Homo sapiens: one gene and its partner. The gene in region 1 interacts genetically with each later gene. Each region holds a gene or a part of one and is shown in the gene's direction. Other genes may lie near its edges. The genes, in order: UCK2 and MAP4K1.

Evidence for each region.
Region 2: changes in UCK2 (region 1) and MAP4K1 together harm fitness less than expected from each alone (positive genetic interaction), as found in Homo sapiens cells (one large-scale study listed by BioGRID).

Annotation. Positions count from the first base shown.
Region 1 is NC_000001.11:165,886,522-165,890,334, forward strand, and holds part of UCK2 (uridine-cytidine kinase 2), read left to right. Parts: intron 1-3,682; coding exon 3,683-3,813. UniProt on the Homo sapiens protein: Phosphorylates uridine and cytidine to uridine monophosphate and cytidine monophosphate. Does not phosphorylate deoxyribonucleosides or purine ribonucleosides. Can use ATP or GTP as a phosphate donor.
Region 2 is NC_000019.10:38,593,838-38,597,650, reverse strand, and holds part of MAP4K1 (mitogen-activated protein kinase kinase kinase kinase 1), read left to right. Parts: intron 1-56; coding exon 57-165; intron 166-255; exon of another isoform or gene 256-266; coding exon 267-325; exon of another isoform or gene 326-398; intron 399-513; coding exon 514-617; intron 618-1,164; coding exon 1,165-1,339; intron 1,340-1,649; coding exon 1,650-1,712; intron 1,713-1,921; coding exon 1,922-2,011; intron 2,012-2,095; coding exon 2,096-2,166; intron 2,167-3,813. UniProt on the Homo sapiens protein: Serine/threonine-protein kinase, which plays a role in the response to environmental stress. Appears to act upstream of the JUN N-terminal pathway.

The DNA of each region.
Region 1 (3,813 bases):
TGGGCTCAAGTGATCCTCCTGCCCTAGCTTCTCAAGTCACTGGGATTATAGGTGCACGCCACTGTGCCCAGCTGAATTATTCTTAAGGAACAAGATGACACCTCAGAGCTCCATTTCATCCTTTTGAAGAGAGGGGCAGGATTAGGCAAAAGGAGAACACAGAGATGATAGTGAAAGAGATACAGAGGTGAGTGTTAAGTAAGCGAAAGAGCATTTATTCAGGGCAGAGTAGAGTCTCTTTGTGGGACTCCTCCTTCCCTCCCTGCCTTCTTCCCTACCAGGTAAAAATTCAAACCTACACAACAATAGAGAGGATGATATAACCAAACCCTATGTACATGTCAGCCAGATTCAACAGTTATCCGGATTTTTTAGGGCCCATTTGTAATATGGCCCAGGAGGAAGAAAATGCCTGAACAATCTAGATTAACCTAGAGGCAGGTGTTTCTTTGCTTATTTGTGCAATTTTATTTATCTCCTTCCTGATAAAGGGCTTCTTCTGCCTTGGGACTTCTTACTATCTAAGGTTGAGGTAAAGAGCCAGGACTCTATGAAACCACATTACTTAACTTGGTTTCCTCATCCATGTAGGAGAGCACATGTGGCTTCTAAAGGTGGTCATAATGGAGTGTTTGGCACAGGGACTGCTGCCTAATAAGTAATCATTTACACTGTTAGCAGTGGTAGTGTGTTTGTGGAAGGGAAGGGTCACCAGCCAGGTCCTTGAAAACACAGGACTGAAACATGCAGCGGGGGATCAACACAATTAGTCATACTGTATCATTGATCAAGGGTTGGGATGAGCGCTGATTTTCTAGAATTGCACCTACTGTATGTTCATTATCCCATTTTACTGGCCATTGTACAGGTTCTGTCCTAGATTGTGCTGGGTTAAGGGAAACAGTAGTTTATCTGCAAAATTAGGTAGTGTAACTTTTTAATATGCTTTTTTGATGGTGATGGGATTGCTATTTACATTAAAAACATTTTATGGGTTTTAAATATAAATAAAAATATCACAATTTGAATAACTAGATAATATACATTTGGCTTCGTGAATCACTTTTTTGTTTTTGTTCTTTGGAATTCTAGGAGGAATTCTATCTACTAATAAAGGCTGCAGACTTTATCTTCCTACAACCTTAGGACGTAAGAAACGTCCTAAGATAGATGCCTGGGAGGAAAAGGAAATTGAGGGCCTACAGGTGTTTAAAAACCTATAGTTTATAATTGCTTAGAGCCTTTGATTTCCCCCCCCACCCATCCATCTGTAGCACCCAGAGAGCCTTGGTTTTGTAACATTTTCACTTTTGAATCTAGTTTATCATATGAAAGTTTTACTGTTCTGTGATATTTTGGGGCATGGGAGGATCTGTGGTCCCAAAGTCCAGAGTAGTTTTAAATGTTTTTCTGTGTTAATATGCAAAAGTATCATGAAGGCGAAATAAATTGTTTGCAAATAATTGAGTCAAAATATTATTGTTCCTCCAAAGATCCTTACTTAGTCGTGTGTCACAGCTTGTATAACAGGACGTATTTTGCAGAGCTGTTTAGTTTGCACTGACTTGTGCAACAGGAATGGCCAGTTTTCCTTACGCTCAGGGCAATCAAACACAACTTTATAAGAATTGTAACTTTAAAAGATTTCATATTTTTGTTGTTGTTGTTGTTAAAATCGTTGATGAAATAAATTCAATAGTAAAACTTCTAAGATTTGAGTCATCAAACCTCTAAATATGCTGTTTTTCTGTTCTGTTCTGTTCTGTTCTTTTCTCTTTTTTCTTTTTTTTTGATGCAGTCTCACTCTGTTGCCCAGGTTGGAGTACATGGCACGATCTCAGCTGACTGCAACCTTTGTGTCTTGGGTTCAGGCGATTTTCCTGGCTCAGCCTCCCGAGTAGCTGGGACTACAGGCATGTGCCACCATGCCTGGCTAATTTTTGTATTTTTAGTAGAGGCAGGGTTTCACCATGTTGGCCAGGCTAGTCTCAAACTGACTTCAGGTGATCCACCCACCTTGGCCTCTTAAACTGTGGGATTATAGGTGTGAGCTACCCTGCCTGGCCTAAATATGCTGTTTTTCCTTTCTATTTATTCGGTTGACCAGTTTCTTTCTTCTTCTTTTTTTTTTTTTTTTTTTTTTTTGAGATGGGGTCTCACTGTGTTGCCCAGGCTGGTCTCGAATTCCTGACCTCAAGCAATCCACCCCCTTCAGCCTCCCAAAGTTATGGGATTACAGGCATGGGCCACCGTGCCCGGCAGGTCAATCAGTTTCATTAGAAGACTTGGGTTATGTCTCCTACAGCTTGTGTAATACAGACATTTTTATTTTTACATTAGTCTTTGTATGAAATGAAAAAAGAAATCAGTTATTTGATAAATACAATCCTTCACTATCTCATTCTATTGAATGCACTTGTTTCATAATGTTCCTTTTACGAAGAGTATATTGAAGGGAAAAAGGGGCAGACACATGTATTACTATCTGTTTTTCTTTTTTTTAAATTTTAGGATACATGTATTACTAACAACAACACACAAAGCATGTAGGTTTGAGTTCATTTGGAGTTGGCTTCTCCACTCTTGTTTGGGATACTCCTAAGTTGTTTTAGATGTTGGTGGTGTTTGTGTTCCTTGTCACCCTGTCTGTGGTGACACACGTTTGTGAAAAGGCCACCTGGTTTACTGTAGATGTGAAGTCATGGCTGTGGACTGGAGCAAAAGTAACCAACAGAAGTAGGATTAACGCTGTGAGCATAGCCTTCTTGCTAACTAGCTGAGCTCTCTGGCCATGGTTTTTGGTTCCGTTGATATAAAGAGATGTGCAGGGGCTGAGTGGCATTCCATGGATGTGCAGTCACCTTGTGATTCCAAGGCCCTGTAGCCCCTCAGCACATCATCACCATGCCTTCATTCTACTTTCTGCTGCCTTTTTTGTCTGTCTATACCAGGGCACAAGCAGACAGGATCAGGTAGCCCTACCTTTATCAGTGGCTCTGGGAAAGGCTCTTCTGGAGGAGGAGGTGGTGTGTGCTGCCCTCCTTCCCCCACCATCACTGCAAGTACCTGACAGTAGTAAGCTGTGTTAAGGGAAGGGAGGAAGGAACTTTGGGGATCCTAAGACTTCTCTGTCACAGGCGTGTAAGGCGGACTCTTCTCCGTTAGCCTTTTTTTTTTTTTTTTTTTAATTTAACTTTTAAGTTCAGGGGTTTGTTACATAGGTAAACTTGTGTCACAGAGGTTTGTTATACAGATTATTTCATCACCCAGGTATTAAGCCTAGTACCCATTAGTTATTTTTCCTTATCCTCTGCTTCCTCCCACCCGCCACCTCCAGCAGGCCCCAGTGTGTGTTGTTCCCCTCCCTGTGTCCATGCATTCTCATCATTTAGCTCCCACTTACAAGTGGGAACATGCAGTATTTGGTTTTCTGTTCCTGTGTTAGTTTGCTAAGGATAGTGTCCTCTAGCTCCATCCATGTTCCCACATGAGACGTGATCTTATTCTTTTTATGGCTGCATCCCTTAGCCCTTTAACTCATCATGCACGATAGCTGCCTTTGGATTCTTCCTTCCAGAGCCCCTTCTTGGAAGGTGTGCATCAGCTTGGTTACTCTCGGGACTTCCTCTGTACCACACGTGCCCTTTCTCTTATTCCTGGGTGCTCTCTTCTCTCCTCACAGTCTTCCGTGTGTGCTAAGATCGTGCAGCTCCTGGGGCAGAATGAGGTGGACTATCGCCAGAAGCAGGTGGTCATCCTGAGCCAGGATAGCTTCTACCGTGTCCTTACCTCGGAGCAGAAGGCCAAAGCCCT
Region 2 (3,813 bases), on another chromosome or scaffold:
GTGGTATATGGGATCCTATAACTTCCTGCTTCCCCCTACATACACACACCCTGCAGGAAAGACCCCCCACCTGTATTCTCATAGCATCCTTGGCCTGCTGGAACGGAAAGAGACCAGAGCAGGAAACCCCATCGCTCACATTAGCCCCCACCGCCTACTGGCAAGGTACCAGCTCCCAATGAATGGCACCACACAGCCTTATAATTCCTCCCATGCCCCTCTGCCTCCTGCTGTCCTACCCCCCTTCACACCTACCTATTCTCCAGGAAGAACATGGTTTCCACCAAGATCCAGGACACCAAAGGCTGCCGGGCGTGCTGTGTGGGTGAGAGAGAGCTTCACGGGTGTGCAGAGAGTGGGCGGGGCCAGGCCAGAGGAGGGGCTTGAACTGCATCCACCTGAGAAGGTTACAGAGTTAAGGCAATGTGTCCAGAACCCAGAAGATGGGTGGTAGTGTGGGTGGCGAGGAGGATAGAGGGCATTGATCTTGACTCATCCTTGCCCATGCCACAGCGGAGGGTGCGAGCTCTGGGGGCCCGTTCCTGTGCGGTGCATTGGAGACGTCCGTTGTCCTGCTTCAGTGGTACCAGCCCATGAACAAATTCCTGCTTGTCCGGGTAAGGGGCTTGGGAGGGTGCTGGGAACTCTGAGGAGTGGGTGGCTAAGGCCTTGCACCCTTTGCGCTTCTATCAAGAGCTCCATGAAGCCCCACCTCCGTCGAGGCCCCGCCCCAATCTCCCGAGGCCCCGCCCACCTGCGGTCTGCGCTTGGAGCCTCGTCCTTCTGAAGCCATCCTGATCCTTAAGCGCCGCCCCTCACACCTGGGCCTAATTATTCCTCAGGCTCAATGCTGCCACTCCCTGGGTGTCCTAGTAGAGCCCATTTAGAGCCTGTCTCTTTGAGTGTCTAAGCAGGTTTTGCTATCTTTGGGGCCCTGCCCGTCTGCCGCCAAGGTGGCATGCCCCCACATGGAAGCCACACCCACTCGGAGGTCACGACCCCCGTTCCCGCGGAGGCACCAGGCCTTATCCCCTGACATTTCTAGACGGCATCCCCCAAGACTTAGGGCCCTGGTTCGGAAGTCCCAGGCCAGCTACAAGCCACGCCCCCTGAGGCCCCGTCCTGAACCACCCCCTAGCCCGCCCCTCCCTGTGCGGCCCGCAGCAGGTGCTGTTCCCACTGCCGACGCCTCTGTCCGTGTTCGCGCTGCTGACCGGGCCAGGCTCTGAGCTGCCCGCTGTGTGCATCGGCGTGAGCCCCGGGCGGCCGGGGAAGTCGGTGCTCTTCCACACGGTGCGCTTTGGCGCGCTCTCTTGCTGGCTGGGCGAGATGAGCACCGGTGAGTGGGGCGGAGTCTTGCTGAGGGCGGGGCTTATCAGATCCGGAGGGGCGGAGCTGGAGGCGGGGCTTCGCTTAGCCTGAGGCACTACGGGACTGAGAAAGGGCTGGAAGGGCGGAGAAGGGAGAATGGCAGGTTTTAGTTAACTGGGGAGATTGATGATGGGGTGGGACCGGGATGGTGGGCGGGGTTTAGCCCACTTGCTTGTGAACTGAGGCGGTGGCTAAAGCACAGGTACTGGCCTTCTGGGGGTGGTGTGGGGAAAGGGGAATGGGGTGGGGTCAATCCTTAACCCACTCCCCCCAAACAGAGCACAGGGGACCCGTGCAGGTGACCCAGGTAGAGGAAGATATGGTGATGGTGTTGATGGATGGTGAGAACCCTCCTTCCTCCCCTTCCTCCCCACCCCTCCAGCTGCAGTCCCTAGATCTCTGCCTCCGAACTTGTGCTTCTCAGAACCCCCTGAGCCCCTCTGGGCCTTGCCCCTGTCCTACATAGCTTTCACACTGAATTTATGGATTGGTCCCTTAGTAACCCTCTAAGCCTTGCTCACAGTTCTTAAAACCGTCTATCTCCTTCCAGGCTCTGTGAAGCTGGTGACCCCGGAGGGGTCCCCAGTCCGGGGACTTCGCACACCTGAGATCCCCATGACCGAAGCGGTGGAGGCCGTGGGTCTGTGCAGGGACGGGAGAGCCCAGGATCAGGGGTGGAAACTCAAGTGATCCCCAAGGGTAACGGGCATTGCTTTCTCCCCAGCTATGGTTGGAGGTCAGCTTCAGGCCTTCTGGAAGCATGGAGTGCAGGTGTGGGCTCTAGGCTCGGATCAGGTAAGCCCCTCCATCCAAACTCCACATCACTGCCCCCCAGCCTCCATCATGACATTCATCAGATGGGCTCCGAGAACTCCTGAGTCAGAGTGTGAAGTCCTGGAGGGGAAACATCTTCCAAATTTCAGTTCAGATAGATCCCCTTCTTTGCCCCAGGATTTATTTTTTATTTTATTTTTATTTATTTATTTATTTAAGACGGAGTTTCACTCTTGTTGCCCAGGCTGGAGTGCAGTGGTGCGATCCCGGCTCACTGCAACCTCCACCTCCCGGGTTCACGCGATTCTCCTGCCTCGGCCTCCCAAGTAGCTGGGATTACAGGCATGCGCCACCACAGCTGGCTAATTTTTGTATTTTCAGTAGAGACGGGGTTTCACCATGTTCATCAGGCTGGATGGTCTTGAACTCTTGACCTGGGGTGATTCACCCGCCTTGGCCTCCCAAAGTGCTGGGATTACAGCTGTCAGCCACCACACCCGGCCTATTTTATAGATAGATAGATAGATAGATAGATAGATAGATAGATAAAATTTATTTATTTTTGGAGATGGATTCTTGCTCTGTCACCCAGGCTGGAGTGTAGTGGCGCGATCTCGGCTCACTGCAGCCTCTGCCTCCCAGGTTCAAAGAATTCTCCTGCCTCAGCCTCCTGAGTAGCTGAGACTACAGGTGCATGCCGCCATGCTTAGCTAATTTTTTTGTATTTTTAGTAGAGACAGGGTTTCACCATGTTGCCCAGGCTAGTCTCAAACTCCTGAGCTCAGCCAATCTGCCTTCCTTGGCCTCACAAAGTGCTAGGATTACAGGTGTGAGCCACCACTCCTGGCCATTTTTATATATTTTTTGAGACAGAGTCTCGCTCTGTCACCCAGGGCAGAGTGCAGTGGCATGATCCGAGCTCACTGCAACCTCTGCCTCCTGGGTCCAAGTGATTCTCCTGCCTCAGCCTCCCGAGTAGCTGGGATTACAGGTACACTCCATCATGCCCAGGTAATTTTTGTATTTTTAGTAGAGACGGGGTTTTGTCATGTTGGCCAGACTGGTCTCGAACTCCTGACCTCAAGTGATCTGCCCGCCTCAGCCTCCGAAAGTGCTGGGAGTACAGGCGTGAGCTACTTCACCCGGCCTGTTTGTTTTGGAGATAGGGTCTCTCTCTCTTGTCCAGGCTGAAGTGCAGTGGTGCAACCATAGCTAGCTGTAGCCTTGACTTTCTGGGCTCAAGCAATCCTCCCTCCTCAGCCTCTCAAGTGGCTTGGATTACAGGTGTGAGCCACTGCACCTGGCTGCTCTTGGATTTCTTGAGTCCCAATCTCATCCTGGGCCACTACTGTGACCTTGGGCTGGCAACGTTGCTTCTCTTTAAGCTTCTGTTCCCCAACTGTAAAATGGGGACCACTATAGAGATATATGGATAGTTAAGACAAGACTGTCTGGGTTGGAATTCAGCTGAGTGGCCTTGGGCAAATGACTTAACCTTCCTGTGCCTCACTGTCCTCATTTGGAAAATGGTGTTTATCTCACAGAATACTGTGTCAGACTTTGCCCTTACACTTTAGTATTTTTATTTATTTATTTTTGCTCACTCAGTTCCTTCCCTCTTTTTGAAATGGAGTCTCGCTCTGTTCCCCAGACTGGAGTGTTAGTGGC